7 separate regions of the Homo sapiens genome follow, and all the other regions are reported to be linked to region 2. Evidence: microRNA targets listed by miRTarBase, many of them from high-throughput screens and not tested one by one. Region 2 holds a microRNA gene; each other region holds the end of a gene's coding sequence.

The links. The annotated mature microRNA hsa-miR-7-5p reads UGGAAGACUAGUGAUUUUGUUGUU and lies in region 2 at 2,736-2,759, opposite strand. An mRNA with a match to its seed (bases 2 to 7 or 8) in the 3' UTR can be bound and repressed. Matches are read on the target gene's strand: a 7mer-m8 pairs with bases 2 to 8, a 7mer-A1 pairs with bases 2 to 7 and ends in A, and an 8mer does both.
Region 1: miRTarBase lists CAGE1 as a target of hsa-miR-7-5p. The part of its 3' UTR that is shown has no 7-base or 8-base seed match.
Region 3: the mRNA of TMEM98 is a reported target of hsa-miR-7-5p. The part of its 3' UTR that is shown has no 7-base or 8-base seed match.
Region 4: the mRNA of OR1A1 is a reported target of hsa-miR-7-5p. The part of its 3' UTR that is shown has no 7-base or 8-base seed match.
Region 5: miRTarBase lists DCAF12 as a target of hsa-miR-7-5p. Seed matches in the 3' UTR shown: 7mer-m8 at 1,412-1,418 and 7mer-A1 at 1,698-1,704.
Region 6: miRTarBase lists SLFN11 as a target of hsa-miR-7-5p. Seed matches in the 3' UTR shown: 7mer-A1 at 853-859 and 7mer-A1 at 976-982.
Region 7: miRTarBase lists GPR20 as a target of hsa-miR-7-5p. The part of its 3' UTR that is shown has no 7-base or 8-base seed match.

What each region holds. Positions count from the first base shown.
Region 1 is chr6:7,322,872-7,327,363 of GRCh38, forward strand. CAGE1 (cancer antigen 1) reads right to left here. Exons shown (of 14, transcript NM_001170692.2): 14 at 3,788-4,028. The coding sequence ends at 3,987. Among named protein-coding and RNA genes, the nearest start is that of SSR1, 12 kb to the left of the region's middle. RefSeq lists a silencer at 1,726-1,835.
Region 2 is chr19:4,768,967-4,773,458 of GRCh38, reverse strand. It overlaps MIR7-3 (microRNA 7-3), which reads right to left and starts at 2,789; the gene lies at 2,680-2,789. MIR7-3HG (MIR7-3 host gene) reads right to left here and starts at 4,354. Exons shown (of 3, transcript NR_027148.1): 1 at 4,108-4,354; 2 at 3,702-3,829; 3 at 903-1,295. RefSeq lists a silencer at 3,628-3,922.
Region 3 is chr17:32,939,986-32,944,477 of GRCh38, reverse strand. It overlaps TMEM98 (transmembrane protein 98), which reads right to left. Exons shown (of 8, transcript NM_015544.3): 8 at 163-3,692. The coding sequence ends at 3,485. Among named protein-coding and RNA genes, the nearest start is that of TMEM98, 14 kb to the right of the region's middle.
Region 4 is chr17:3,215,985-3,220,476 of GRCh38, forward strand. OR1A1 (olfactory receptor family 1 subfamily A member 1) reads left to right here. Exons shown (of 4, transcript NM_014565.3): 4 at 1-2,912. The coding sequence ends at 566. Among named protein-coding and RNA genes, the nearest start is that of OR1A1, 11 kb to the left of the region's middle.
Region 5 is chr9:34,084,539-34,089,030 of GRCh38, reverse strand. It overlaps DCAF12 (DDB1 and CUL4 associated factor 12), which reads left to right. Exons shown (of 9, transcript NM_015397.4): 9 at 523-2,644. The coding sequence ends at 681. Among named protein-coding and RNA genes, the nearest start is that of UBAP2, 38 kb to the right of the region's middle.
Region 6 is chr17:35,348,510-35,353,001 of GRCh38, reverse strand. SLFN11 (schlafen family member 11) reads left to right here. Exons shown (of 7, transcript NM_001376007.1): 7 at 1-2,697. The coding sequence ends at 646. Among named protein-coding and RNA genes, the nearest start is that of SLFN11, 23 kb to the left of the region's middle.
Region 7 is chr8:141,353,180-141,357,671 of GRCh38, forward strand. It overlaps GPR20 (G protein-coupled receptor 20), which reads right to left. Exons shown (of 2, transcript NM_005293.3): 2 at 3,291-4,492. The coding sequence ends at 3,668. Among named protein-coding and RNA genes, the nearest start is that of GPR20, 12 kb to the right of the region's middle. RefSeq lists enhancers at 3,304-3,925, 3,926-4,492.

The DNA.
Region 1 (4,492 bases), not on the chromosome of region 2:
ACAGCAGAATACTAAAACTTTCCCAGGTAGCAGCCCCGATGCCTCAAGCTCAAACACAGCAGTTGATCACAGTTTGTCCTACCAACCCTTCTCTTGGATGTTCCCCAGGAAGAAGATTGATCAGAATCCTTGGGAAACATGGGGTGGGAGCAGTGACGGACTGCAAATAGGATGGAGGAAATTTGGGGATGGGGTGATGGAAATATTGTAAAACTAGATTGTGGTGATTATTGCATGACTATATAAATTTGCTAAAAATCACTGAATTGTATACTTAAAATAGTTGAATTTTACAGCACATAAATCATCCCTCAATAAAGGGAAGAGTATAGAAAATACATTTATTGGTGGTAATAACTTGTGTATTTATGTACTATAGGTTTTATGCCTCTTCTTCCAGTTACCAACACTCTTTCATTAGGGGATCAAATCCTCCCATCAAACAAGTGGAGACATGCCCAGTGGAGCAGCTTTGCTGTGAAATTTTGAAAATTGAAAACTCTTCTCCCAGCACCTTCTTTGGCCCTTGGCCCCATTTATGATAAGAATCCTCCACTGTATTATAGTGTTGAATTTTTACCATATTGTGCCCACTAGACTTTTATAAAAATATATTCTAATTGTTCTTCATGCACATTTAACCTTGCTAAATACAGGATGATCTTTGTCCAGTTTCACACCTTACCCCTAAGGTGCAATCATAATTCATACTAATTCCCAAAGTCCTTTGCAGTTTTTTTCAGACTGGATCTGCTAGATTTGAATTATATAGGCGGCTCACTCTTACCAAGAGTTGCATTTATATAGGCGAATGTTAACGATCTTTGAAAGATAGAACATAATATACAAAACATTTATATCCTTAAACAATATTAGCACAGTCCTGTAACTCTTCTTAAACTAGAGTGACTATGAACTTAGTTTCCTAAAACAGATGTTATGGAGGAGCCAGGGTTTGAATCTGAATCTTATGATTCCCTGTCGAGTGCTCTTTTTCCTATTCCGTACTATCTCTCCTGCATTATAATTTAGGGAAGAATGTGCTAAGTGCCATTAAAAAGTCAGATAAAACAGACGAAAGAGGCATTTCAGATGAGGATGAGGGTGAGATCTGAATTAGATCTCAAAGGGTACAAATGTTTTAAATATGAGGTACTGCATGGTGGATGTGAAGAAAGGAGAGCTTTTAGTGGGCAAGGAAAGTGCATTCCCAAAAAAGGAAACAATATGGGGAAAGGCACAGAAGTTTGGGCCCAGAGCATGGAAGGCAATGAACACTGACTATGGAGTAAGGATTTGAAAACCTGTCCATAAAATATATTTAAGTGAATTATGACACATATCCATGAAATATTATACAGCCTTCAAAAATCAGAGTTATGAAGACTGGAGATACAGGAAAATAGCTATCAGAAACACTATGAGTTCAGATAACCTACTTAGGATAGTGTGTGAAAGTGCCTTGTAAACTGCAAATAACAATTTTTGGAAGGTTTATCATGGGGAGTGAAAAGAGAGGAACCATGATAGCTTTAGAAAAGAAAAGGGTTGCAGGAAGGATATTTTTTAAAGGCTAGGGTAGGGTTCAATGAAGAGTTATAAAGGAAGGTGTGAGAAGATACAAATGATTGCCGGAGCAAATCCTCAAGGAGATACGATGGGTCAGAGTCAAGAGGACAAGAGACCAAACAGACCAGAGGAAAAAAGAGGAAAGTGCGTAAGTCCACAGACGGGAGAGGAAACTGCGTCCCCATGCAATCTCCTGTGGTGAGAGCCAAAGCTTTACTCTGTGAAGGCAGAAGCTGTGGCTATTTCCAACTTTCACTTCTCTCTTCCGTCCCCCTACTACAAGAAGAGAGTGACACTCCCGGCCATGAGCTCCCTCAACTTACTACACCACGGCTTATGTTTGCCCTGAACATGCCTGTCCTGATTTCAGAGGAAGAGCTGTCCCTGTCCCTAGGCTGTGCTGTGGAGCCTAGTCTCTCTTTTCTCCTCTGACATCTTGCTTCATCAATGATCCCTCTCTCTCCTTGATCTTCAGTCTCTTCCCTGATCACTTCTCAGCATATACATAACTGCTTATGAAATACCTCCACTCAAGATGCTTCACAGCTACCTCAAACTCAGGGTATCTCTCCTTACAAACCAGCTATCCCTCTGGTCTTCTCTACATCGTTCATCCAGAGCTCTTCTAGGCTTCCTAGACCCTTCTCTCTCCACTCCCACAGCTAACTAATAACCCCATCCTTTCCATGACAACAATAATAATAGCTTTTATTTATTCACCACTTCCTTCAGGACCAGATATATACTCTACATATATTTTCATCTCGTATTTATCTAATTTAAGTGCAAAACTAACTTTAGTGAGATAAAATAGTTTTTCTCTTCCACCTAAGGGGTGTGTGTGTGTATATATATATATTTTTATATGTATATATTATATATATATATATATATATATAATTTTTATTTTTTTTTTTTTTGAGATAGGGTCTCACTCTGTTGCCCAGGCTGGAGTGCAGTGGTGAGATCTCAGTTCACTGCAGTCTCTGCCTCCCAGGTTCAAGCAATTCTCTGGCCTCAGCCTCCAGAGTAGCTGGGACTACAGGCACTCACCACCATGCCCGGCTAATTTTAGTATTTTTTTTTAGTAGAAACAGGGTTTCAACATGTTGGCCAGGCTGGTCTCGAACTCCTGACCTCAAGTGATCCACCTGCCTCGACCTCCCAAGGTGCTGGGATTACAGGCGTGAGCCACCGTGCCCAGCCGTAAGGCATATTTTGATCAATAGCTATACCTCCAGTCCGGTTCTGGGATTTATCAAAAGGATAATATGTATGTTATATACATTTATTTTTCTAGTGCATCTCACAAAATCAGCTCTCTCTGGCTCCTTTGTTTAAATTCGGAACTAATTCCTCAAAACTATGTGAAAGTGGAAATTATAAGGGTTAGGTCTTAAGAGACCAGTCCTTTCCTTTCATCTGGGTTTTTCTGTTTTGAGACAGGGTTTCACTCTGTTGCCTAGGCTAGAGTGCGGTGTATGATCATGGCTCACTGCAGCCTCCTCCTGGGCTCAGGCCGTCCTCCTGCCTTAGCAACCTCCCATCCCCACCCCCTTATACCACACTCCCCTCCCCTGCCACCCAGTAAGCTGGGACAACAAGTGCTTGCCAGCATACCTGGCTAATGTTTCTGATTTTTAGTAGAGATGAGCTCTTCCTATGTTGCCCAGGCTCTTTATTTATTTATTTATTTTATTTGAGACAGAGTCTTGCTCTGTCGCCCAGGCTGGAGTGCAGTGGCACGATCTGGGCTCACTGCAAGCTCCGCCTCCCGGGTTCACACCATTCTCCTGCCTCAGCCTCCCGAGTAGCTGGGACTACAGGTGCCCCCGCCACCACACCTGGCTAAGTTTTTGTATTTTTAGTAGAGACGGGGTTTCACCATGTTAGCCAGGATGGTCTCGATCTCCTGACCTCATGATCCACCCGCCTCGGCCTCCCAAACTGCTGGGATTACAGGCATGAGCCACCGCGCCTGGCCACCCAGGCTCTTTTATCTGCGTTATAATTCCAAAGGATTTCAGAGTTGGTGTCTTTTAAAATTTGGTTGGTATTATGAAGAATCTGCCTGCCTGGACAGAAAAAGGATGTCCTGCAGAGGAAATAAAAAGTTGAAGTGAAATCCATGACTATTTTTGTGCATCATTAAAGGCCTGATAATATGGGAGTGGTATTCTGTGAGAATATTTGGTCAAAAAACCACTGTATTCTTCTGTTTATGTTAAATAGAATATATTTGATTATTCACAGGAAGAAATTAGAAGAAAAGTAATCACATCTTTGGAATGTAAGACTTTACCCTTTATACAGATTTTAATATATCATCTGCATGGATTGATTTGGCTAGCATATGTAGTAATGACTCTTCCTGGAGTGGTTGACAAAAATGATTACTGTTTAATCTTCAGGCTTGTTTAATCTAAATCATTTCTATTTTCTTTAAAAAGAGCTGGCATCTAAAAATGAAAGGAAAAATGTTTCGTAAGTTTTGGGGAAAGACTAACATTCAGTGACAGAACCCCTAAACAGCCAATTTTTTATTACATATGGAAAAGGGGTGCAAAGTAAGCCTATAGATAGATGAATTCCACAGATAATACCAACACTATATTTTGTTTGTTTGTTTTGAGACAGAGTCTCACTCTGTTACCCAGGCTGCAGTGCAGTGGTACAATCTCGGCTCACTGCAAGCTCTGCCTCCCAGGTTCAAGCGATTCTCCTGCCTCTGCCTCCCAAGTAGCTGGGATTATAGACACTCAACACCATGCCCGGCTATTTTTTGTATTTTCAGTAGAGACGGGGTTTCACCATGATGGCCAGGCTAGTCTCGAACCCCTGACCTCAAGTGATCTGTCCACCTCAGCCTCCCAAAGTGCTAGGATTATATTTTTGATAGAGATGGGGTTTTGCCATGTTGTCC
Region 2 (4,492 bases):
AACGTTATTCTGCAGTCAGTGGGGCTCTTGGAAGGGTGACAGGCAGGAGTGGAACTTGGTCAGATGTGTGTTCTGGAAAGTCCCCTCGCTGCATGTAGAGAATGAACAGGCTGTATGTGTGTGTATGCTCAGAGGGGAGACAGTGAGGAGATCCGGACATGCAGGGAGGCGGAGGTCATGGAGGCAGAGGGCTGGAGGGAGGTCATGGAGGCAGAGGGCTGGAGGAGAGAGGATGGATTTGAGCACAGTGACTCATCTTGGGGATCATGGGGAGTGGATGAGGAGGGGAGGATCTTGGGCATGTAGAGGGACTGTCATATTCATGGGCATGTCAGGGGAGGAAGCTAGGGGCTGGGCAGATTGAGTGTTCACTTTGAAATGATTAATTTGGGGTGACTGGGAGACACCCATAGCAGAATGTCCTCCTCCATTGAGGACCCCAGAAGGCAATATCTGTGTGCCTTTTCCTTTCTGAAAGACCTTGCATTCCCAGGGGGCAATTCTAAATAGACCAGGAAACCTCCCACAATTAGACCTAACCCAGACATTGAACCTCCCTCTGCTCAGCCCATTCATAAAGTGCCTCTGGCATTTAGGTGTCTTCTAATCTCATTTTCTCTGCTTGTTAATGGACCCACTGAGGCAGTACTCCTGGGAGAGAGAGAAAGATTTCATTTGTCTGGGGCTGAGGAGGGAGACGAGGGTTGCCAGAGCTAATGAGGAATCAGTGCCTTGTAATTGCTAATTAAATGAGCCTGGCTCTCTCTCTTGGGGCTGTGAGTTGGCTGGCCGGCCCTTAAGTGTCCACAAATTCAATTATGCTTCCCCAATAAACACCTCCAGCAACCATTGCCCTCCAGTATCTCTCTGGGGGAGACCTAGAAGAAGGATCTTCCTGTGTGTGCTGAGGCCATTCATTCATTTATTGATTGATGTATTGGTTTATTCTTTGATGCCTTTATTGATTCAACACATGCTTATTATATGCCTGCTGTGTGCCGGGCCCCGGACCAGGCGCTGGGGACACAGCAGTGAAAATACTAACATTGTTTCTGCCCTCACGGAGCTCACAGTGTAACAGGGAGACAAATAGACCTGTCAGTAGATAACATGAAAATAATTGGACTATGTGCTGCAGACACAATATCCCAGGTCTATGAGAATGTCAATACAGACTTCACGTGGGAAATGGTGAGGCAATAAGGATCGTTTCCCTTGATGAAATGGAGCTTGCAGAAGAAGGCAGGGTCAGTTGTGGGGAGCTCTGGTTGGAGGTGGAGGGAGTGCATTCCAAGCTGCAGGAACAGCAGAGGCAAAAGCCCTGAGGCTGGAGAACAGGTAACCATGTGCAGTTTTTCACTTGATTAGGGTGTTGCAGAGAATTGGGAGTGAGTCTTATATATTTATTTATTTATTTATTATTTTTTACTGAGATGAGGTCTTGCTATGTTGCCCAGGCTGGTCTCGAACTCCTGAGCTCAAGCTATCCTCCCACCTTGGCCTCCCAAAGTGCTGGGATTACAAGTGTGAGCCACCATGTCTGGCAAAGGTGGTGAGCCTTTATGATGTCATAAGTCACCACTGGGCACAAGTTCACACTTGTCCTATGATTGGCCCATGACACTGATGGGTAGCAGACAGGAAAGGAATCTTTTCTGAAACTTTTTTTTTGAAACAGGGTGTTGTTCTGTTGCCCAGTCTGGAGTGCAGTGGTGCAGTCATGGCTCACTGCAGCCTTGATCTCCCAGGCTCAAGTGTTCCTCCCACCTCCTAAGTAGTTGGGACTACAGGCATGTGTCAACTCACGGGGTCTCACTATATTGCCCAGGCTGGTCTCAAACTCCTGTACTCAAGCAATCCTCCCATCTCATCCTCCCAAAATGTTAGGATTACAGGTATGAGCTCCCACACCCAGCCCACTTCTGGAACTTTTATTGAAAAGTATCCTTAGGCTGGGTTCGGTGGCTCACACCTGTAATCTTGGCACTTTGAGAGGCTGAGGCAGGAGACCATGTCTTTACAAAAAAGAAAAAAAAAATGTTTTTTGAGACAGAATCTCTCTCTGTTGCCCAGGCTGGAGTGCAGTGGTGCAATCTTGGGTCATGCAGCCTCTGCCTCCTGGGTTCAAGGGATTCCCATGCCTCAGCCTCCCGAGTAGCTGGGACTACAGGTGTGTGCCACAACGCCCAGCTAATTTTTGTATTTTTAGGAGAAATGGAGTTTCACCATGTTGTCCAGGCTGGTCTTGAACTCCTGGCCTCAAGTGGTCCACCTGCCTTGGCCTCCCAAAGTGCTGGGATGACAGGCGTGAGCCACCCGGCCAAAAAAATAATAATTTTTTTTTTAATAGAAAAGTACCCTGAGAACTCTGGTCTAGGGAGGGCTTTAAATGTCATTCCCTCATTGGGTCTCCCAGGAAAGCGCCATAAGGTGGTTAGAGGTCTTGGGTTTAGAGTCAGGTATGTTCTATCTCCAGGCTTGTGGGGGCGTACGAGTGATGTGACAAACCCCATACATGGTGCATGGCTGTATGAGCACAGGATGTATGTCCTTGTTTGCTTCCCTCCTTTGCCTGTGCCTGTATCGCCTGGAGTGAGCCAGCCCCCCCACTCCGAGTGGAAGCGATTCTTCCCCGACCTCCCCGGTTCTCCCCCACTGGCCAGCCCATTGAAGGCGAAGGTCGAAGGGAGTCTGCGCTATGAGGCCGGCTGTGACTTGTTGTCGTAGTACATCAGAACAACAAAATCACTAGTCTTCCACACAGCACTAGACCACAGCCACTCTAATCTTCTTCACCACCCTCTGCCCCATGTCTGAGACCCCTGCCCAGCTCCTCCTTCTCACCTGAGCCAAGCTATGACACCTGAGTTTCCTGCCTCTGTGCTGCCTCCCTGTTTTCCATTCCCGGTTCTCCTGGAGAGAAGCAGGGTCTGATCTCCAAGGGCCCACCTCCCACCCAGGCACGTCAGAGACATGGGATTTGGAGTTGGACTGGTGGGGTTGACTTACAGCTTCACTTGTGGGCTGAGAGTCCCTGCGTGGGTTATTTTTCTGCCTTTCTCAGGGCCTTGGGTTCCCCAAATGTCACATGGGCACAGTAACACCCATGTCCTAGGGTTGAAGATGGCATGATATGATGTATGTAAAATGCTTGGCACAAGGTTTCTCACCGAAGTCTGGAAGAGACACCATAATGTCATCTTAGCAGGCAGCTGTTACCCCAGTGAGGTATCTTACCTGTTGAAAATTCCGGACTTGGGCCAGGCGCAGTGACTCACGCCTGTAATCCTAGCACTTTGGGAGGCTGAGGTGGACGGATGAAGAGGTCAAGAGTTTGAGACCAGCCTGGCCAACATGGTGAAACCCCGTCTCTACTAAGAATACAAAAATTAGCCGGGAGTGGTGGCATGTGCCTGTAATCCCAGATACTCGGGAGGCTGAGGCAGGAGAATCCCTTGAACCCAGGAGGCAGAGGTTGCAGTGAGCCGAGATCGTGCCACTGCACTCCAGCCTGGGCGACAGAGCAAGACTCCGTCTCGAAAAAAAAAGAAAATTGCAGACTTCTGTGTGTGCTTATCTGGAAAATACTTTGTTTAAAAATCCATTACATGAGGTGCAGGTCTCCAGAAATGCCAGGCACCTCAGACCACCCTCTCTCGTCCTCCCCCTGCAAAATCAGGGTCAAAGGGCTCTCCCGTTACCTGGAGGAGCTGTCCAGGGTTCTGGAGACGAAACGGAGCCCGCTGGGAACTGTCCTGAGCCCCGGTGCTGAAACAGATCGCGGTTCTCTTCTCGGACCTCCCGAGAGGCGCTGTCCGGATATTTGGTGCTGAAATAAATAGCATTCTCCTCCTTCGGTCGGTGGAGAGCTGTCCCTCGTGCTGAAGAAAACTTGATTTTCCTCTCTCTTTCCCCGTTCCCCCACCCCTCTTCGTTCTCGGTTCCTCCGATTCTTGGGAAACCCCACCCCCACTCAATTTATTTCCCCTCCTAGCTTCTTCCTGGGGAGCTTCAGAATGGCAATGGGGTGGCGGGGGGGAGACACAGAGGGGTCGCAACTAGCACTGATACCTGCTCCTCACCCTGTACCATGTCCCCAGAACTTACCTCCCAAGCAGTCAGCCCTGCTGGTCTCTGCTTTCCAGACCGTCAAACTTCGCCGTCTCTGTCCCTTTCTGGGAAAATGTCCATGCGCCAACCTGCAAACCAGCCTCATTCCCGGCATCCCACGTCCCTCAGACCACCCCTCCTCCCACGCAGCTGCGGGCCTCCCCCTCTGTGTGCCTCACCTGCTTCCAGTCTTGTTGGCAGATGCAGGTGTCCCGTGGCTGCCGAGGCGGGGACCTGCGCTTTTATAGGCTTCAGGGAAGGCGGAGCGCCAGGAATCCTGGGAGGGGCTTCCCCAACTGGCCAATGGGATTCCGCCTCAGAATGAAGCTCCAAAGATTACCTCATAGGTTGTGGCCCACGCTTCAGAATAAAAGTCTGGCAT
Region 3 (4,492 bases), not on the chromosome of region 2:
CTCTGTGTGCCCACAGTCCCTCTTGTGGTCCCCTCCATCACAGCACTGGCTACAGTCATGGCTCCAGCAGTTGCTCATTTCTCTATCGCTCCTTAAGGGCAGGGATTGTGCCTTTTGTTTCATAGCTCCAGCATCTAGCACGAACCCTCTTCCACAGAAAGCTCTTGGTATGCATTTATTGGAGACAGGGAGGAGGTGAGGAGGATAGAAATTCTTCATCTGACACTTTCCCCACATTTCCAAGGCCATAAAGCAATGCAGGGCCTTTGAACTGTAGGCCATTTTCTAAAAGTCTGCTCGTGTGGGCACACAGGGTCTCTGGAGAGGGAACTCCTGGAATGAGGCAGGTCAGGGGGAGCACCAGGGGAAGTTGGATGCCAGGAATACGTGTTCCCTCTTGGAGATCTCACAAGCTGGGGGAATTTCTCTGGAGGAATGTGAGTTGCACAATCGACCCTTTGAACACTGATTAGAGGCGACGGCTTTGTATGTCTTCATATGAACAGACTTGTAGTGGGGCAGGGACAAGGCTACTCTCCCTACTGTAGGGATTCCAGATTTTTGGCCACTCAATTCCAGAGCCCATGAACAGAAGTCACTGCTTGGACCAAGCCATGGTAACTGAGGTGACGCCATCTGGGTCAGCGGCATCAGAGAATGGGAAGCTGTGGAGAGAAGGGTGTTAACATTGGCTAATCAGAACCAGGCCCACAATTGGGCAGCTCACACATACCGTTTTGCTTGTTGACATACCAACCCAATGACAATAGCCTTGACCATACAGATGAGAATGCTAAGGACCAGAATGTTAAGAACTTGACCAAGCTCACACTGTAAGTCACTGAGCCCAAATTCAAACCTAATTCTGACTTCAAATATCTTGTTCTCTTCACATTGAATCTCTATCTCCAAGTAATTTCTTTTTCATCAGAATTTGAGTCTAATGCTCCTATTCCAGGCCAGAGGGAAGAGAGACATGGAAGGAAGGCTCTACTACCATGTATACAGACGCTAGAGAACTAGGCACTTAGGAATGTGTCTGTTGCCTGGGAAACCACACCTGGCACAGAGACAGTCCTGAGATCCCTGGCACTCACTAACCAGCCCCTTCCAAGGGAGGAAGTAACTTCAGCCAACTCCCGAAGGGCCTAGAGGAGTGGCATTGCCTCCTACCCCAAAGACTGCTTCCACTTCAACCATCAGCCACCAACACCAAATTTATCCAGAGGCTTCTTACTTGTCCAGCACTAGAAAAAAAAACTACACAGCAGTGGGATCAGAAATCCTACAGTCCAGCAGACACCTCCAATATCTTCGGCAACCTCTCCTCACAACAGAAAGGGCAGCATCTAAGGGATCCAGAAAGCCAATGTGCCAGGACTTGCCAGGACTCAGAGAAGGTAATCGACATTGGGCATTGCTTCAGGGGTGCTGGGAAAGCTCTCCACCCTGCAGACCCACACCAGGTGGATGGTATTTGAGATACCAATTCAGAACTGCTTCTCTGTGGCTTAGGGCTCTAGTGCAGGTTAAAATGCAGGGGACACTTACAACTGTGGCAGCCATTGCAAACTTAGCATGAATTGCTTTCCAGTCTAATTACGAAAACAGGTTCTGAAAGGGAGGTAAAAAGACAAAAATAGGATGACTCTGGATGTTTACTGTGGAGGCCTCAAATAGAAAAGTCAAAGTGACTTTGTATACATTCCCCATTCACAGCTTGACAGGACGGGAAAGTTCACCACTTAACGTTTTTAAGAGTTGATGGAAGCCACCAATCCAATAAGGTGTCCCCTGGAGCCCATCCAGAATCCATCCTTTAGTCCATGAGAGTTGAGCTCCAGCTTCCCTCTCCTGACTCCATATCCCAGCTGTGGTTCTGTGGTTTGGTGTACATTGTGCAGGTTGGAAGTGGCCTGTTTTCCTGGAAAGAATGAAATGTGCCCAAATGGAAAGACAAACCAGGTCCCAATCTTGGATTTGGGAATATGGGTTCCTGGTTCCCCAGAATCCAGCTGAGGAATTTTCTGACTTCAGTTAGACAGAGAAAATGACATGGGAACAGATGTGCAACTCCAAACATGCTTGACAGCATAGGCTACGAACCTGGGCAGCCCCTATACCAGGCCCCTCTCCCAAGAGCAAGCTGGCTCTGAGAATCTGAGAAGTGAAGAATTCAAGCTTTTCCTACAGGCTTATGACAGAAATTATGCCATTTGGGTATGTATCCAAATTATATAATTGTGATTCTGGGTCATAGCTTTCATAATCTTTCAATGTTTGCAAAATGAACAGATATTAATATCAGAAGAAAGGGGGAACACATCGTTCAAGTCATTGCTATTGTTAATGTGGAAACTACTTCATAGTGCTATCTTCACTTCTGCCTGAACTCCAAGAGGTCTTTAAATATATTTTATATATATGTATGTTTTGGAGACATGGTCTCACTCTGTCGCCCAGGCTGGAATGCAGTGGCACAATCAGGGCTCACTGCAACCTTCACCTCCTGGGCTCAAGCGATCCTCCCACCTCAGCCTACCAAGCAGCCGCACGTGTCACCATGCCCAGCTAATTTTTGTAGTTTGTGTAGAGATGAGGTTTCACCATGTTGCCCAGGCTGGTCTCAAACTCCTGGGCTCAAGCAATCCACCCACCTTAGCCTCCCAAAGTGCGAGGATTACAGGTGTGAGCCACCGCGCCCAGCCTAAATATCTCATTTTGAGGCATACACAGAAATCATCCTCAGGATTCTTAGGCTCTCTCCTTCCATCTAAGTATGTCCCACAATACACCATGCATATGAATTTGACTCAATAACTACACACTTGAGGGAAACATAAGTATAAATTTACTATCCACCTAGTGGTAGCTAGGTAAAATTGCAGGCATAAAGATAAAAAAGAAATCATCAACTTTGTAGTTCCTCAGCTTCAAACCCAAACCTGCAAGGGAGAGGAGAGACCCAGACGCCTCAGGGACCAGGCAGATAATACAAATAAATGAAACAGGCCAGGTGAGAGAGTACAAGTCTTGCCAAAAGAAGAAACCCCTACTTAGTTTCAATTGATTGTCCTCTTCTGAAAATGCAGATCAGAATTGCCACACATTCTGACCGATCGAGAGAGGCCAGAAATTCTAATTTTAATGTGAAACCTCTTGATTTCTTAGACGGTGGCTCAATTTTCTTGAAAACACTAGGTGAGCTAAATAAAGCTGACAGTCCACCAGTTTTCAATACTCCTCTTGCAGAGAGTGAATGGCATCTCCCCTAACTGTAGTATTAGACTGCCACTCACCAGCCACAGTTTGCAACTGCAAAAGAGGCATAAACTGACGGGGATCTCCTGCTTTACTATGCACACACAGCTGAACTCTCCAGCCGTGGAGAACAACTAACTCTATAGGAAAAAGTAGAAGGCTAAGCTGAGCCATCCAGGGATGGCGGCAGGGGCCTTCATGGCTAGCTGCTGGCCTGTAGGCACTAAATTGCAGACTGCTCCTGCAGGAAGCCTTCAGGGCCTGGGAGGCCTTTATCTGGCTCAGAAGCTAGGGCTGCTTCTCGAAGGACTTCCAAATGCTCCTCAGCAGCCGACAGAGACTGGTCAATCCAGTCCAGGCCTCCCGTCAGATGGCAGGCATTCCTTGTCACCAGCACCAGGTGACTGACAGACAGGAGCAGGGCAGTCGTCCTAGGGAAAAAAAGAAAATAGGGTCAGGTTTCCTAGGAAATGAGGGACTTTGCACAAAAGCCCAAATAGATAGACTTTTTGACTAGTATTCCCCAAACTGCACACCCTTCCCTAGGATGTTGGTAGGTATGCAATTTAAAGTTGGCTCCATGCTCAAATAAATTTGGAGATGGCTGGGTTAAACATGGTTAACTGAAGCCTGCCTCAGAGCCTTCTGAGATGTACCTGGTAAAGCTCCAAGGAGAATATAACAGGCTGTCTCTCACAAGCTTATTTAAGACTGTGGAAGCCATTTTCTGCAGCACACCTATTAACATCTCCCCAAAGAGCGCTTTGTGAAACAGTTCAGATATAGTCAATCAGATGAGCATATTCCCCAACCGCTGCCCACTGAAACATAGGACAGACACACCCTCACTTAAACATTCCTTATTGATTACAAATTGGTAAGGCCCAGGGCTGGTTTATCCAACTCAAAAAAAAAAATGTAACTGAAAACCAAAGTGAGGAGTAGATTTTTCAGTGCTGAAAGATTCACTGTAGAATACCTTTTATATGGTTAGTACCATGATGCATTTGAGAATACATTACAGATTATTAACCCACGGACAAAGCTCGGCAGCAGTAGGAGTGGGGCAGAGAAACCAAAGCTGAAGCGCTGTGACCCACTGCCGATCTGGCAACTGTTACATGTGTATGACACAGTCATATAAATCCAAGGCACGAAAGAATCTATATTTCTTAAATGGGTTGCATCTGGTATAGGAACATAACAATTTCATAGGGCTAAGTACACTCTG
Region 4 (4,492 bases), not on the chromosome of region 2:
GAGCTGTGGCCATCAGCCGCCCACTTCACTACACAACAATTATGAGTCCACGGTCTTGTATCTGGCTTATTGCTGGGTCTTGGGTGATTGGAAATGCCAATGCCCTCCCCCACACTCTGCTCACAGCTAGTCTGTCCTTCTGTGGCAACCAGGAAGTGGCCAACTTCTACTGTGACATTACCCCCTTGCTGAAGTTATCCTGTTCTGACATCCACTTTCATGTGAAGATGATGTACCTAGGGGTTGGCATTTTCTCTGTGCCATTACTATGCATCATTGTCTCCTATATTCGAGTCTTCTCCACAGTCTTCCAGGTTCCTTCCACCAAGGGCGTGCTCAAGGCCTTCTCCACCTGTGGTTCCCACCTCACGGTTGTCTCTTTGTATTATGGTACAGTCATGGGCACGTATTTCCGCCCTTTGACCAATTATAGCCTAAAAGACGCAGTGATCACTGTAATGTACACGGCAGTGACCCCAATGTTAAATCCTTTCATCTACAGTCTGAGAAATCGGGACATGAAGGCTGCCCTGCGGAAACTCTTCAACAAGAGAATCTCCTCGTAACCAATGTGAGGGCCTACATTGGATACCGTAGTCACCAGTTACGGTATATTGGAAATCCAGTTCTGATGTCATCCTCCTACGAGAGGCAGTCTCTGATCTTTCTAGCCTGAAATTCCTAATCTCAGAACTCTTATAACATTTTAATAAGTTAATAATAAGTGATTATTGAAATTACCACTTTCAACTCATTGCTGCTCTTTTTGGCAGAGTGGCAGCACAGGGATATAGGGCATATGTCCTGATGAGCAGAGTCAAGTTGGGAAGATCTGAGCCTCAGCTTTCACATCTACATGTTAGGAATAATAAGTGCCCTACATGGGTCACATGGTGTGTTGATTACAATAGCTCATGCTTCCAAGATTATAAATCACTATTCATGTGTCCATTTTTATTTGACTGTTAAGTTTAATCACCCTTATTAGGCTTGCAAGCCTCTGAGGGCAGGAGTTGTTTTTACACATCACTGTACCTTCCCAATCTTGGTCAGATAAAGTGCATCCAATAAATACTGGTGGAAGTGGAATGAATAAGATATTAATATCTGAAACGTAATATTATAATTAGGGATAATCAAACCAGACATTATTTTCTCATCCTTTAAACCTTTCAAGAAACTCCCATTCACAAATGCTACAAAGGGAATAAAATACCTAGGAATACAGCTTACAAGGGACATGAAGGAACTCTTCAAGGAAAACTAAAACCCACTGCTCAAGGAAATAAGAGAGGACAAAAACAAATGGAAAAACATTCCATCCTCTTTTATACAAAGAATCAATATCATGAAAATGGCCATACTGCCCAAAGTAATTTATAGATTCAATGCTATTCCCATCAAACTACCATTGACATTCTTCACAGAATTAGAAAACACTTCTTTAAATTTCGTATGGAACTAAAAAAGAGCCCGTATATCCAAGACAATCATAAGCAAAAAGAACAAAGCTACAGGCATCATGCTACTTGACTTCAAACTATACTACAAGGCTACAGTAACCAAAACAGCATGGTACTGGTACCAAAACAGACATGTAGCCCAGTGGAACAGAACAGAGACCTCACAAATAACACCACACATCTACAACCATCTGATCTTTGACAAACCTGACAAAAACAAGAAATGGGGAAAGGATTCCCTATTTAATAAATGGTGTTGGGAAAACTGGCTAGCCATATGCAGAAAAATGAAACTGGACCCCTTTCTTACATCTTATACAAAAATTAACTCAAGATGGATTAAAGGCTTAAACGTAAGACCTAAAACCATAAAAACCTTAGAAGAAAACGTAGGCAATACCATTCAGGACATAGGCATGGGCAAACTTCATGTTTAAAACACCAAAAGCAATGGCAACAAAAGCCAAAATTGACAAATGGGATCTAATTAAACTAAAGAGCTTCTGCACAGCAAAAGAAACTATCATCAGAGTGAACAGGCAACCTACAGAATGGGAGAAAATTTTTGCCATCTATCCATCTGACAAAGGGCTAATATCTAGAATCTACAAAGAACTTAAATTTACAGGAAAAAAACCACCCCATGAAAAAGTGGGCGAAGGATATGAACAGACACTTCTCAAAAGAAGACATTTATGCAGCCAATAAACATATGAAAAAAAGCTCAACATCACTGGTCGTTAGAGAAATGCAAATCAAAACCACAATGAGACACCATCTCATGCCAGTTGGAATGGCGATCATTAAAAAGTAAGGAAACAACATATGCTGGAGAGGATGTGGAGAAATAGGAAGGTTTTTACACTGTTGGTGGGAGTGTAAATTAGTTCAACTATCATGGAAGACAGTGTGGTGACTCCTCAAGGATCTAGAACCACAAATACCATTTGATCCAGTGATCCCATTACTGGGTATATACCTAAAGGATTATAAATCATTCTACTATAAAGACACATGCACAAGTATATTTATTGTGGCACTGTTCACAGTAGCAAAGACTTGGAACCAACCCAAATGCCCATCAATGATAGACTGGATGAAGAAAATGTGGCACATATACACCATGGAATACTACGCAGTCATAAAAAAGGATGAGTTCATGTCCTTTGCAGGGACATGGATCAAGCTGGAAACCATCATTCTCAGCAAACTAACACAAGAAAAGAAAACCAAACACTGCACGTTCTCACTCATAAGTGTGAGTTAAACAATGAGAACACATGGACACAAGGAAGGGCACATCACACACCAGGGCCTGTCAGCGGGTTGGGGGCAAGAGGAGGGATAGCATTAGGAGAAATACCTAATGCAGATGTCAGGCTGATGGATGCAGCAAACCACCATGGCACGTGTATACCTATGTAACAAACCTGCATGTTCTGCACATGTACCCCAGAATTAAAAGTATAATAATAAAAAAAAGAAACTGACCTGGGGAAATATTTCTGTGCTTACTTCATAGTTTAGACTATATCTAAAGATAATACAACTCCTCCTAAAATCTTACTAAGACAGTCACTAATAAATAATAATAATAATAAACAAAAACAAAAGCAAAGAAAGAATGACCACAGGATTCAGGATAAGAGAAAATTCAAAAGGAGAAATGGGGGAATAGAACTAGGGTTATCACATAGTTAGATGTAGGTTATTACTACAGTCCTAATATTCAGATTAAGTGGTGAGTCCAGGGTGTTCATGAAATTATGATTGATTGATAGTTACATAGATACATAGATAAAAGCTCTGAATGAAACAATGAAGAGAGCTTCTCTTTAATCAAGAATGGATAGATAAGAGAGCAGTAAGGGAGGAGGGGAGAGTGATGAGATCAGGAGTTTAATTACACATCTCTTAAAGCAATCTAGGGAAGAGAGAGTGAAGATACAAAATGAATACAAGACTAATTTTGCTGTTACGGATAAACTCAGTAAGATCAAATGGAATTAGGTGTTTATTGCCCATGGTGAAATAATAAGTACCAAAGAGGATAGATACTATATAAGAAGGTATCCTTCTTTGCATCTACGATCCAGATGCAAACGTAGTGTGGAAATAGAAACCATAGAATGAATTATTATGATAGCAATAAGATGTCTAGAAGATTTTGAGTTCGAGTCACTAAAAGGAAAAAGATGCCCTTAATGACAGTAGTGAACAAAACAGCAATTTAAGAAAAAAAAAAAAAGTTCCATTTTGGGTGTGTTTTTAGTGTTCCAGTGACTCTTGTGGATGTATTGGATTAAATAGTAGAATGAAGATACAAAGCTTTGGAGCAAAATTAACAGAACATGGATCAGAGGGGAGCTGATAAGTCAAGTTTTCAACAAAGAGACTTGCAGAATGACTAAACTTCAAGAAAGGGAGCCAGGATGGAGAATGAGGATTCCAGCTGGGGAAGGAAGACACTTGTACAGTCAAGACTTGATGGTCCTCCAAGTCAAACTATGTGTCTCTCTCCCTTTTATATCAGTCAAGGGACATAGCACAGTGTATTGTCCTGCACTACTGAGCACTCAAATACTTGCTTTGAAAAAAATGAAACAAGGAAAAGTGGTAAATGCTACAAAAGAAGTTAATGTGCCACGTAGGTTCAGAGAAAGTAGCCATTTCATTACATATGAAATGTACATATGCATGTGGGCGTGTGCATTTCGTCTATCACATATATTATTGTCTCTGAATTTTCAAAATAGTCCTGTGGCACAGATGGCAATAGCCCTCCTTCCAGATGAAGAAGTCACATCTCTCAAAGATGAAGTGATTTAGCCCATGTCTTTCAATTAGAAAAATGCAGATCTTGTATTTGAGCCCAGTTTTCCTCATGCTGAATGCTCTTCCTCTGACTCCACAGCTGGCCTGTAGAGGGAATATAGAATAATGAGGAGAGATACCTAAGGAAGCCAGGATTTGTGCACCTGCAGGAAACATGGCTAGAACTTTAACAAGCAGAGGGGACACTCCAGCCA
Region 5 (4,492 bases), not on the chromosome of region 2:
CTCAAGCAGTCCTCCTGCCTCAGCCTCCCAAGTAGCTGGGACCACAGGCATATGCACTGTGCCCGGCTAATTTATTTTTTTTTAGTAGAGATGGGGTCTCGCCATGTTGCCCAGGCTGGTCTCAAACTCCTGGGCTCAAGTGATTCTCTCACCTTGGCCTCCTAAAATTCTGGGATTACAGCCATGAACCACTGCGCCCCACCTCCAGTGAATTATTCAAGTGTTTGGTTCTTCCTCCTGTGCCTAGCAGGTGGAGGGAAAACAGAACTTTGGTTCTAAGTCTCCTGAGAAGAACTGAGCCTTGTATAGCAATTCTTCAGCTGCTCCGTTCTTCTCTAACGTTTAGTTGGAAAAATGAGGCCCTGATTCCCATGAGAACCAACCAGCCAATCTCCTGACATGAGGTTGTACCTGTAGAACCCTGTTCCCTTAAGGAGACCAGAAAGCATTCCTGTCCCTTCCTCCCCCTTTTCCTGCCCCATGGCTAGAGGTGCTAATTGTAGTCTCTTTCTCTTCCCGTAGAATCATGATGAAACCTGGAGGAATTACTTTTCAGACATTGACTTCTTCCCCAATGCTGTTTACACCCACTGCTACGACTCGTCTGGAACGAAACTCTTTGTGGCAGGAGGTCCCCTCCCTTCAGGGCTCCATGGAAACTATGCTGGGCTCTGGAGTTAATGACAACTCCCCAAATGCAGAGATTTACACTAACTTCCATTCTCAGTTTCCTTGTTTCTTTTGATTTTTTTTTTCCTAATTGTGTGAGGCTCTTGTGTTTTAGTGGGAACACCAAAGTTTGCCTATAGTTTAGGCACTTAATAGGAAGAAGCTCTGTACAGAAATCTGAAAGTTGTTTTGCTTTTTGTTTTCCCCTTTGGTAATCAAAATTTTACTATCTTTTATTATTTCTGGCTTTTCAACCAAACATTGTTGCTAATCCCTATTTTTCTTTAAGTGACACACATTCTCCTGTCTCTGGCTTCTTCAGGCTGAAATGACATAGCTCACCCTTACTTCACTCTTGAGAGGTAGGGCTCCTTTATAATTACATGGTTGCTCTCAGACTTTCTGTGAAAGTTTGGGAGCTGTGTGTGTCTGTGTGTGTGTGAGAGAGAGATCTTGTCTGCGTGTGTGTGTGTGATCTTGTGTGCCTGTAGGTACTGTGTGTCACTGAAATTACCTGGAGTGAGGATTACTTGTAATTAAAATATTTATAAAAGAAACAACTTTATTCACAGAGTCCAGCTTTGGGACTAGTCTGTATCTTGTTTTTTAAGTCTAACAACACTGATAATAGGAAGTAAAAACAGAAAGGAAAAGAAATTACCACTGGGAAAATCTTTTTAGTTAGATTGTAGGCTTCCTGGGGCCTCCCATGCCAGGACTGCAAAGTGATCCAGCCCTACCTGTCTTCCCACCTGTGTGTCCCCCGTGTGGGAAGTTGGTGTCACTTCCCCTTCCCACCCTCACATCTGCTTAGCCAGTAGCCACACCCCTAAAACATCAGACTCACCATCCAGGTGCAGCTCCAGAGGCTACAAAAGGCTTCATGGGACTTGAATCCCCATCCTAGCTTCTCTCTCCTTCCCCTCAAGACCTGATCTGGTTTTAAGGGGCCTGGAGCTGGGAGTCTCAAGTCTGCTAAGATTCACATCCATAGCCCCCATGGCTTTGAGGAGAATCCTCTCTGCCATTCTTCCAATCTCCCCAGTGGGTTTTGCTATTATTTTCTAAATTGGGTTAAGTCTAAGAAGGTGGGGGTGAGCAGGGGGTTTATCTGTGTGTAGTGAGTGCTTCATGTGTGGAATATTCATTTTCTTACTGCAGTGGGACTTGGGGTTGAAGCCACCCCTCCTACTCTGTTGGCTTAGCCCTGAGATGGTGACAGGCTGGCCTGCAGTCAGCATCATTGTGCATGTGACAGCATCAATGTGATTAGTAATTTGTCTGTTCCTCCCTTGAACTGTCTGTTTAGTCTGAGGTTTTTAAACTTGCAGGCAGCTGACTGTGATGTCCACTTGTTCCCTGATTTTTACACATCATGTCAAAGATAACAGCTGTTCCCACCCACCAGTTCCTCTAAGCACATACTCTGCTTTTCTGTCAACATCCCATTTTGGGGAAAGGAAAAGTCATATTTATTCCTGCACCCCAGTTTTTTAACTTGTTCTCCCAGTTGTCCCCCTCTTCTCTGGGTGTAAGAAGGGAAATTGGAAAAAAAATTATATATATATTCTCCTTTTAATGGTGGGGGGCTACTGGAGAGGAGAGACAGCAAGTCCACCCTAACTTGTTACACAGCACATACCACAGGTTCTGGAATTCTCATCTTCGAACCTAGAGAAATAGGTGCTATAAACAGGGAATTAAGCAAAATGCTGGATGCTATAGATCTTTTAATTGTCTTAATTTTTTTTCTATTATTAAACTACAGGCTGTAGATTTCTTAGTTCTCACAGAACTTCTATCATTTTAAACTGACTTGTATATTTAAAAAAAAAATCTTCAGTAGGATGTTTTGTACTATTGCTAGACCCTCTTCTGTAATGGGTAATGCGTTTGATTGTTTGAGATTTTCTGTTTTTAAAAATGTAGCACTTGACTTTTTGCCAAGGAAAAAAATAAAAATTATTCCAGTGCACAATGGTGTGAGTGAGTATTGTGTAGCCAGGAGCCTGCCAAAAAGGCCCCACATGACTAGTTGGAAGGTTGGCTTGAGCTGTTGGGATTGCTTGTGGCAGAAGGGGAACACAAGCCATTACCTCCAGGTTAGAGGCAGGTCAAGTGCAGGCACAAATACTAAGACCTGCTTGCTCTGGGTCCCCAACTCTAGCCCAAGATGAGTTGCTCTGAGGTCCAGCTGAGGGTGGATATGCCCAGGGTACTGAAGTAGTGTGACGTTACTTCTGTTACATAAGTAAGGGTTGGTAATAGGCCCTGTCTGCTTGGATGGTGCCCTGAGAATGACGCTGAAAGTGCTTGCATAGTACTCTGGGAATAGGATATTAATTTTTGTTTTTTGTAGTTGGAACCATAGACCTTCACTGCCCTTTGTAAGGGGAAGACACAGTGACCACAGTGAGTGATGCTCTTCTAGAGCCTATTTGGAGCTGTAGCTGAGAGAAACTGCCAAATCATACCACCCTTCCTCACACAGTCATCTCTGGGAAACCCACCAGGGCTAGGCCGCAGAGCCTGGCAAGGCCGTCCCTATTCTTCTGCCACATGGTACTTGTTCTTTCCAGGGCAAGCTGGACACAGCTGCTCTATGCACCTGCCTTAGAGACTGACTGGTTCAGAACATGACACATGGGTTCCTATATGATCAAAGGCTGCAAGACAGGAAGGGGAGATGAGTAAGTTAAAGCAATTTGAGAGGGCTCCCCAGAGGAGACGAGTTACATTTGGAAAGGGCTGAAACTAGCCTTTCCCAAAATGAATTTAGAAGGTATTTGTAAAATCTTCATTGTCAGCCGGGTGCAGTGGCTCACACCTGTAATCCCAGCACTTTGGGAGGCCCAGGTGGGTGGATCACCTGAGGTCAGGAGTTTGAGACCAGCCCAGCCAACATGGTGAAACCCCATCTCTACCAAAAATACAAAAATTAGCTGGGCGTGTTGGCGGGTGCCTGTAATCCCAGCTATTGGGAGGCTGAGGCAGGAGAATTGCTTGTACCTGGGAGGCAGAGGTTGCAGTGAGCCGAGATTGTGCCACTACACTCCAGCCTGGGCAACAGAGTGAGACTCCATCTCCAAACAAAATATATTGTCAAATCATTTTTGGGAAATGCAGATTAGAACAAAAGCAGCTTCATTCCTTTACCATCAGGTTTTTTTATTTTTAAAAATTGGAAAGGAGAGCTTTATTTCTCAAAGGGTTGCAGTCTGCAGGGTGGCCATTCTGACAGTCTGGGAAGTACAGCCTCTGGCCAGAAGTCAGAAACACAAACTGAGGGAGGGGCAAAGGGGACAGGAATTTATGTTGAACAAGGTGGCTGAATATATGTATTTAATAAGCTATAGGAGGAGTCATGAATATTTATAAAAGGAAAAAGGTACACATGTGCAACTGAACTCTTAGGTTTTTGGTATTTTACTATGGGACTTGTTCCATAGAACATGCTCACAAAGAAAGGTGACTTAGGGAATGTGGGGTTGACTTGGTCTAGGCCTCTGGCCTCCATGGAATCTTGGCCTTGCTCCCACTTTCCAGCCAGACTTTCCAGCAAAGCATGTATCACAGAAGGGCTTTGTGGGCTTTATGGGGTCCCTTTTTAGCCAGCAGTCCCTACTCCCTTCTGTGAAAGAACTTCTTGTTCTCTCTCAGGCACTTCTTGTTCTGTCTCAGGCCGCATGCCACATGCCTTATTCCAAATAGTCTGCTGGCTCCTCATCCTTTGGGTCCTTCTACAGGAGGCTTTGTAGCTGAACTGAATTCTTAGCCCTTCATGACTTGTTTATGCTCCAAGTCCCTGGTCCCCTGCCAACTC
Region 6 (4,492 bases), not on the chromosome of region 2:
CACTCGGAGAGCAAAGGGTGGCCCAGGAATTCTCTGGATCTTTCTGGATTACTTTCAGACCAGCCACTTGGATTGCAGTGGCCTCCCTCCTCTCTCAGACCAATATCCAAGAGAAGAGCTCACCAGAATAGTTCGCAATGCAGATCCAATAGCCAAGTACTTACAAAAAGAAATGCAAGTAATTAGAAGTAATCCTTCATTTAACATCCCCACTGGGTGCCTCGAGGTATTTCCTGAAGCCGAATGGTCCCAGGGTGTTCAGGGAACCTTACGAATTAAGAAATACTTGACTGTGGAGCAAATAATGACCTGTGTGGCAGACACGTGCAGGCGCTTCTTTGATAGGGGCTATTCTCCAAAGGATGTTGCTGTGCTTGTCAGCACCGCAAAAGAAGTGGAGCACTATAAGTATGAGCTCTTGAAAGCAATGAGGAAGAAAAGGGTGGTGCAGCTCAGTGATGCATGTGATATGTTGGGTGATCACATTGTGTTGGACAGTGTTCGGCGATTCTCAGGCCTGGAAAGGAGCATAGTGTTTGGGATCCATCCAAGGACAGCTGACCCAGCTATCTTACCCAATGTTCTGATCTGTCTGGCTTCCAGGGCAAAACAACACCTGTATATTTTTCCGTGGGGTGGCCATTAGGAAGAACTCCAAATCAAAATGCTATGTAAATGTCTATGGGTGACAGTCTGCTGATGGTAGAAACCTTTCTTTTTAGTTCACAAGTCAGAGATTTGGACGGAGCTGACACAAAGAGTTTGGAGCTCCCCCATTTCTGGCTCTCCTTTCAGGGGTTCCTTCCCCAACCCTTTCAGCAGCGGTGGCTGCCCCCCATTCTGACCCCTGACTCTTCCAGCCAGAAAGATGGTGGTTTTCTAAAGGAACTTTAGCTGTCCTGCACAATGCCGATCTGTGTCTTGCATTTTGGGTAAAAGCCATAAAAATAAGAAACTCAGCCTGTGGCCTTTCTTTCTTCCAAGGCTGGGCTTCTTTTTTTAAGTGACTTCATGCAGTTTGTTGCTTTTAAAAATTTGTCCAGAATCGTTTTCTGCAGAAGCATGGTCTGTTAGGAGCTTACTGGCCGTAGCAGAAGCAATTGTTTCCTGAATTCTTGACATTTATCTTTGCTGTATTCATTTAGGGCTTGGGAGAGTCCGAAGATAATTCAGTCACTGTCAGATTAATAATTTTGTCAGGACAAAGAATACCGTTATGATTATTTAATCCTTTAAAATTGTGGTCTCCAGAGCTTGTTCTCAGAATGGCCCAGACCAAGCCTTAATTGTGATAGTGAATATTAATGGTCACTTTAAGGAGAAATTATAGGCCAAGATGAAATGAACATAAACCTGTTTGCCCTGGCTTTCAGTGGAAGATGATATTAGAGACCAAAATCTGGTTCTGAAGGTGTGTATCAGCCCTAAGGTGAACCAGACTTGGGAAAGATTGTCTTTAAAAATCAATGAGTTTATGTTTTAACTTCTCAGCTTAGTTCTATGCATTGCTCTATAACACACCTAGTTAAGTTTTATGTTATTCTTGAACTGTGATTTTTTTTCTATTTACTTTCATGGTTTGGTGGGCCATTGTTATGGACTGAATGTTTGTGTCCCACCCTTCACCCCCAAATTCCCGTGTTGAAGCCCCAACCTGCACTGTGGAGCTGGGGCTGCTAAGGAAGTAATTAAGGTTACATGAAGTCATGGTGGGGCTCTGATCTGCTAAGGTTGGTGTCCTTATAGGGAGAGACCCCAGAGAGCTTGTTCCCTCCCTCCCTGTGCATGCAAACAAGAGGGCATGGGAGCACACAGAGAGATGGCAGCCACCTACAAGCCAAGAGGAGAAGCCTCACAATCAAACTCTCGCTGCTGGCGAGAGTCTTGGACTCTGTCTTGGACTTCCAGCCTCCAGACTGTGAGAAACAAATTTCTGTTGTTTCAGCTTCTCAGTCTCTGGTGTTTTGTTATTGCAGCCTGAGAACACAGCTGTACGATTATTTGTCAAACAGAAAACACTGATACTTAACAATGCTAATGCAATTATTTATTTGCTTTTCAGTCTCTACAAAACGTTCTAAAACACTAATCTAAATATTAACAGTAAAATATTTGCATAACTAATGGAAACTAAGAAATCATATGACCAATATTTCACTTATTGGTAATCTTACTCTACTGATTTCCCCCCAGACTGTGATTTTTGAACTTCCTTGCCTTTCTCCTGTCTTTCTGTGTTTATTCATGGAATTCCAGTTATCTGGGCTTGAAATTGCAGGCTCTCCTAACTTAAGCAAAATCTGACAGATCAGCAAAATGAGATAAATGTTTCTTTTTTCTTTCTGACTGCATTAAATCAGATACAACTCAGCATTAAAAAGCTATCTTTGTAAATGTTGTTACTAATAAATTAGTCTTATAAGATCCCTGGACTTTGGAGTTGTTGCAATGTCTTTGAGAGTAATTCTTTAAAAGTCTAATTTCGACTGGTTGTATCTCTTTATGATTTATTGCCCCACTAACAATATTTGAAACAATATAATATTTTAAAATGTATAAATAATTATGAATTTTTGTTTAGAACAAAGAGGATTACTGATATTTGTTTCCCTATGAATGGCAAAAGGTTTAGCTTACTACTGCATTTCTGTTTTAAATAAAAAGTTGAGAGTTTGTGTCTCATTAAACTGAAAAAAATGGTCTTGTAAAATAAGTGCTTAAATGGGGGAAAAGGAGAAGACTGAGGCCAGTGACTCTGTGAGAGGGCCAAAACGAGCCAGTAAAAGATTAAGCAACATTAACTTTCAATTTTTTTTTTAAGAGACAAGATCTCACTATGTTGCCCAGGTTGGAATGCAGTAGTGCAATCATAGCTCACTATAGCCTCGAACTCCTGGGCTCAAGTGATCCTCCTGCCTCAGCCTCCGAAATTGCTGGGATTATAGGCATGAGCCAGTGCACTAGACTCAGTTGGGTTTGGATGGGTGCCTGCCCATCTCTGCAATCTGCCTCTAGACATCTGGGACCTACTTCACTAAAGATCTGAAAATCTACCCAGCCATTATAAAATGAAACAAAATGTTTTTATATTTTAAATTAACTTTTTATTTTAGAGTAGTTATAGAATTACAGAAAAAGTTACAAAGATAGTACAGAAAGTTCCTGTGTCCCCTTCATTTAGTTTCCTCTTTATTTTATTTTATTTTATTTTATTTTATTTTATTTTATTTTATTTTATTTTATTTTGACAAGGTCTTGCTCTCTCACCCAGGTTGGAGTACAGTTGGGTGATCACAGCTCACTGCAGCCTTTAACTCCTGGACTCCAGTGATCCTCTCACCCCAACTAGCTGAGAAGCTGGAACTGCAGGTGCATGCCACTACACCTGGCTATTTTTTTAAAAAAATTTTGTAGAGGACGGGGTCTTATTATGTTGCCCAGGCTGGTCTCAAACTCCCAGGCTCAAGCATTCCTCCTGCGTGGGCTTCCTACAGTGCTGGGATTACAAGTGTGAGCCATTGCAGTGGCTATTTCCCTGTTTTATTACTGTATTGTTGTGATGCATTCATCACAACTAAGGAACCAACCTTACTTAGTACATGACTATTAACTAAACCCCACATTTTATTTGGATTCTCCAGTTTTTTTTTTTTTTTTTTTTTTTTTTTTGAGACGGAGTCTTGCTCTGTCGCCCAGGCTGGAGTGCAGTGGCATGATCTCGGCTCACTGCAAGCTCTGCCTCCGGGGTTCACGCCATTCTCCTGCCTCAGCCTCCCGAGTAGCTGGGACTACAGGCGCCCGTCACCACACCTGGCTAATTTTTTGTATTTTTTTAGTAGAGACCGGGTTTCACCGTATTAGCCAGGATGGTCTCGATCTCCTGACCTTGTGATCCGCCCTCCTCGGCCTCCCAAAGTGCTGGGATTACAGGCATGAACCACTGCACCCGGCCTGGATTCTCTAGTTTTTCTCTAATGTCTTTGCCTACTCCAGGATCCCATCCAGGACACCATACTACATTTAGTGGTCATGTTTCCTTACACTCCTCTGACCTGTGATGCTTTATTTTTGATGACCTGGACAGTTCTGAGGAGTACTGGTCAGGTATCTACAAATAAAATGTCCTTCAGTTTGGGTTTGTCTGATTTTTTTCTCAGACTGGGGTTATAGGTTTTCAAGAGGAAGACCACAGGAATGAAGAGGTATTCTCATCACATCACATCAAGGGTATATGCTATCAACATGCCTTATCACTCATGATATCAACCTTGACCAGCTGACAGAGGAAGTGTTTGCCAGGTTTCTCTACAGTGAAGTTACTTTTCCTTCCTCCTATGTTGCTAAGTGCAGCTCACACTCAAAGGGTGAGGATTGAAGCTCCACTTTCTTGAGGGGGCCAATGTCTATATATCCTACAAAATAATTTATCTATATAAATTATTTGGAATTCTTCATTTACTTGTAAGAATGGACTTATAGATATTTATTTAAT
Region 7 (4,492 bases), not on the chromosome of region 2:
CTCCATCCCCTGCCCATCAGAGCTGGGCAGGGCTCAAGGCCCCTAAATCTGCCTCCCAGCAGGGATGACAAAACCACAAAACCACTGCCGCTGCCTCCCTGTGGAGCCCTGCTGGTCCGCAGGACACAGAGTTGGGGCGTGCGTAGGGCTGCCACCCTGCTCCATACCCTCCGCCAGCTCCATGTCCCCCACCAGCCCAGGACCAGAGTCGTGGGCAAGAATAGAATAAACAGCTTTAATTCCAGACGAGGACATCTCGTGAAGGAGATTGTTTACGTCGGATATAAATACACACACCATTTCACGTCACTTGGGCGTTTTGAAAATCTGGAAAGGGAGATCATGGGGAGGGGGCGCAAAGATCTCACGCCCTGTCCCCGTGAGTGTGGAGAGGGGGCACGCACAGATCTCACCTCTGCCCCTGTGGGACCAAGGACAGTCTTGGTCTGACTTTTGAAGCTCCTGGGCCTCGGTGCCCACAGAGGAGGCTGAAGTGGGAAGGAGCCGGCCGTCAGGAGAAGGAAGCAAGCAGCCGGGGGAGCTGTGGGGCCCAGTCCAGGGCATTGGGGTGACCCCCTTCCCCAGCCCCCTGCCCTCCAGCTGTAAGGCTGAGGAGAGGAGAAAGAGGAGTGGGGTGTGGAGAAACTGAGGCTTGCCTATCAAGGGTTCTGCATCGGGGGCTGGCAGGCAGTTCTCAGAGGTCTGAGGGTGGGCCCCAAGCCTGTGTCCCTGGCCACAGAAGACAGGCGGCCTGTCCTCTCCAGCATGAGTGGTAGTGGACGCACTTGCCGCTTCGGACAGGATGTCCTTCCCCTCCCGGCCTCTTACAGTCTGAGAAGCCTCTGAGGCCCGAGGAACCCAAGTTGAATGATTGGATTTCAGATGTGGGGACAAGGAGGGGACCTGGCTCACCTGCCTTAGAGACCCCTCCTCCTGAAGAAAGGGATTGTTCCAGAAAAATTGCAAGCCCTGCCTCTTCAAGCACAGCAATCCTCAAGTGTCAGCCATTCACTCTTTAGCGTGAATTAGAGTGACAACCAGGAATGGAGCCAGGCTGGGGGTCATTGATGGGGAGGCCAAAGGCCCGAGGGGCACGTAACACCGGTGGAGGAGGGGCAGGGAAGACTGGCGGGGAAGGGGCCGGGAAGACTGGTAGGGGAGGGGAGGGGCTGGGAAGCTGCATGGAAGGCCCTTCACTGGCCCCAGCGAGGCGGGCGCTTGGCCTTACCTTTGCCCAGGCCATTCCCCCTCATCTTAGCACTCCTTCCCGCTGGCCCCTGCCTCCTTGCAGCCCTGGGCTGGAGAGGTCTTCACAGTACAGTGCGGGACCAAGGGCAGAGGGGTGTCATACTCTAGGCCACGTGCAGAGCTTGCTTGAGGGGCGGGAGTGGGAGCCGGCAGGTAGTCTCTGGGGCTTGGGGCGCCCCCTAAGATGGAGCAAGAGGATCCACAGCTCCTGGAGGAATGGAGTCCAGAGTCCCTGGCCCTGGATGACTTGTGAGCGTGGGTGGAGGGGTCCCAGGTAAGCAAGGCCATTCAGGGACTGCTGGGCCACATGAGCCTGGAAGAAGCTCATGGCTTGGGCTGGGCAGGACACCTGAGCCCTGACCCCTCACTCCTCAGCTCTAGGCATGTGACCACGTGGGTGCCAGCTCGCAGCCCTGGGAATGATGGCTCGCTGGCTGTTGGTGCCTGCTTGCCTGAAAGTCGCCGTGAATGCTGCACCTGTGGTCAGCGGGGTTTTTCTGCATGCACAGCCCTGTCCCCCAGCCACGTCCTTTCCTGAACGCTGGGCCCCTCTGCCTTGTGGAACCCTGCATCCCTGGTAAGCCACGGCCCCTCTCTGAGCAGCACCCGAGAGCTGGGGGCTGGGGGAAGGTTCCAGAATTGTGCCTGGTGCCTGGTAAGTATCAAGAATGCTGGCGGCCATGGTGATACCCACTGCTTCTCGGGCATCCGGACCCAGGGAGGAAGTAACCCTGGCAGCACTCCCAGTTCCACCACCTTGCGGGGCACGCCTCTGACTCCTCTGGGCCGGTGCCCCCCACCCCAGCTGCTCCACATGGCCACAGCTGGGGTTGGTGAGGACAATACTGGCCTTGGATGACTCAGGCACTCACTCTATGACCTTGGCAAGCCCCTTTCTCCCTCTGAGCCTCAGTTTCTTCATTTGTAACATGGGGATATAAAGTCCAGGACCCTAAACTGGGGTCAGGAGACTCTGCCTCGAGCTGAATCGGGGAGCCCCGGCCTTTTCCTCCTCCTCCCCCTCCTGCTCCCAGCCACACAGGCCACGGTCACCCTGAGTGTGTAGGACTTCTCTGTAGCCAAAGGCCTGGCCTGAGGACCTGAGCCCATCTCGCCTGCTTCAGTGGCTATGGCCAGGTCTGATGGCAGGGCCTCAGAGCCGGAAGTGCCAGGGATGCCCCACACTCCTCTTCCTCACCACAGGCTCCCTTCCCCATTACCAGTCCTGAAAGGGCTGGGAGCTTGGACGCTCGGCAGAAGGCACGTGGGAGGAAATCCTGGAGTCCAGCTCTGAGGAGATGATCAGAGGCCCCAGCCAGAGAAAAGCTCCCTCCCTAGTGAAGGCATGGGGACTCATAGTGAGCTGGGCCAGAGCAGCTGGTCACGTCCTCTCTGCCCCCGGGGGGAGGAAAATGGCTGTTTGCATGGGGAGATGGTGGCCACAACCCGGCATGCCTGGGTTCACTGCTGCGTGACTTTGTTCTTGGTTTTCTTATCCATAGGATGGGGCTGTGAACACTGCCTCTACCTGGGGCAGCAGGTGAGCCATTCTGAGGCCATTCCTAGAGTGGGGGCTTTGGGATGATCGTGCACTCTCTGTGGAAGGAGGTGCAAGGGCACTGGAGGAGGTGGGGCTGGTTTTCATTCTGACCCTGCCATTTCCCAGCTGTGGCCCCTGTGTGTGTCACTTGACCCCTCCAGCACCAAGAAATGGATGAAAAGTAGCGTCTCCTTTGTGGGTTGTTGTGGGTTCAAGTGTCAACCTAGATATCACAGTGCTTGCTCACAGCAGAGCGGCCTGTGGGTGTCTGCCGTTTTATCGTGCAATTCACGGAGGCCTCAGGTGGGGGGGTCTTGCAGAGACATGCACCCCCCCCCACCTCCATTAATGCAACACGAATGCTCCCTGGCCTTTTCTTTCTGTCCTTGTCCTTCCTCCTGTGTGTGTGTTGGAGGGAGCATTGTTGTTGTTAGCTCTCTCGGGAATTCAGGTTGTTTCTTAACTCTCTTGGGAATTCCCAGCACCTAAATAATCTTTGTCCTTTTTTCTTTTTTCTTTTTCATCTCATCCTTCTAATCAATGGAATCCACTGTGCCCTTTTTTCTGAGGAACTCCTTCTGGAGACAAACTGGCCAAAGTGAGGAGCAGCTCCCGGCTACCCCTGTGAGTTTTCAGTGGACGTGCTATACCCCAGGAACAGCAAATCACCGGCATTCAGGCCACCACATCCCATCGGAGCCAGTGGCAGACATTGCTAATCAACCACAGCACAGTGGCCTTAGACGCTCAATGCGGTGCTCTGGGTAGCCATCACCAATCAATCGAGATGGAACCGATTGCCACCCCTGGCATGGTGGGTGTCCACGCTGGCATGCCCAGATGAGTCCTGACCTTCGGCCCCTGGCAGAGCCCTGCTGACTAAGCCTCGGGCCCATTAGCCAGGGCCTGGGTGAGGGCGTGAGGGCCGGCACTGAGGATGTGATGACGGCCTGAGCCCTTGGAGCTCCTGTGCATGCTGACCACGTCACCGCTGCTGGGCTCACGCTCTCCGTGCTGGCCGAAGAGGCCTCGGACGGTGGCCTGGAAGCCACTGGTGACGAAGCAGTAGACGATGGGGTCCATGCAGCTGTTGAGGCTGCTGAGGGTCACGGCCACGTGGTAGACCACGAGGCTCGTGTGGTGTGGCATGTCGGGCCACAGCGCCACGGCCACTTGGCGGGCGTGGAAGGGCGTGAAGCAGACGAGAAAGATGATGAGCACCGTGAGCAGGAGCTGCATGGCCCGCACGCGGCGCTGGCGACCCTGGTGGAGCAGACCCGGCCGCGACAGTGCACACATGATGCGGCCGGTAAACACGCTGATGACCAGCAGGGGCAGCAGGAACTCCAGGACAGTCAGCGCAAAGACACGGCAGCAGGGCCGGCTGCCTGTCACGCCCAGCACCGACAGGGTGACGGCACCGGCGGCCAGCCACACGAAGGCGCACACGGCCCTGGCACAGGCAGGCTGGCGGCAGCGGCGGGAGCCTTCGGGCCGCACGATGGCCAGGTAGCGGTCCACGCAGATGCAGGTGAGGAAGAGGATGGAGCAGTGCATGTTGAGGAAGTAACCGAGGACGTGCGGGAAGGCACAGCGCAGGCAGCCCCTGGCGCCGTAGTACACAGCGAAGCGCGTGGGCAGGGACAGCCCTACCAGTAGATCGGTCACCACCAGGTTGATGGTGTAGATGACTGAGGGTGTCTT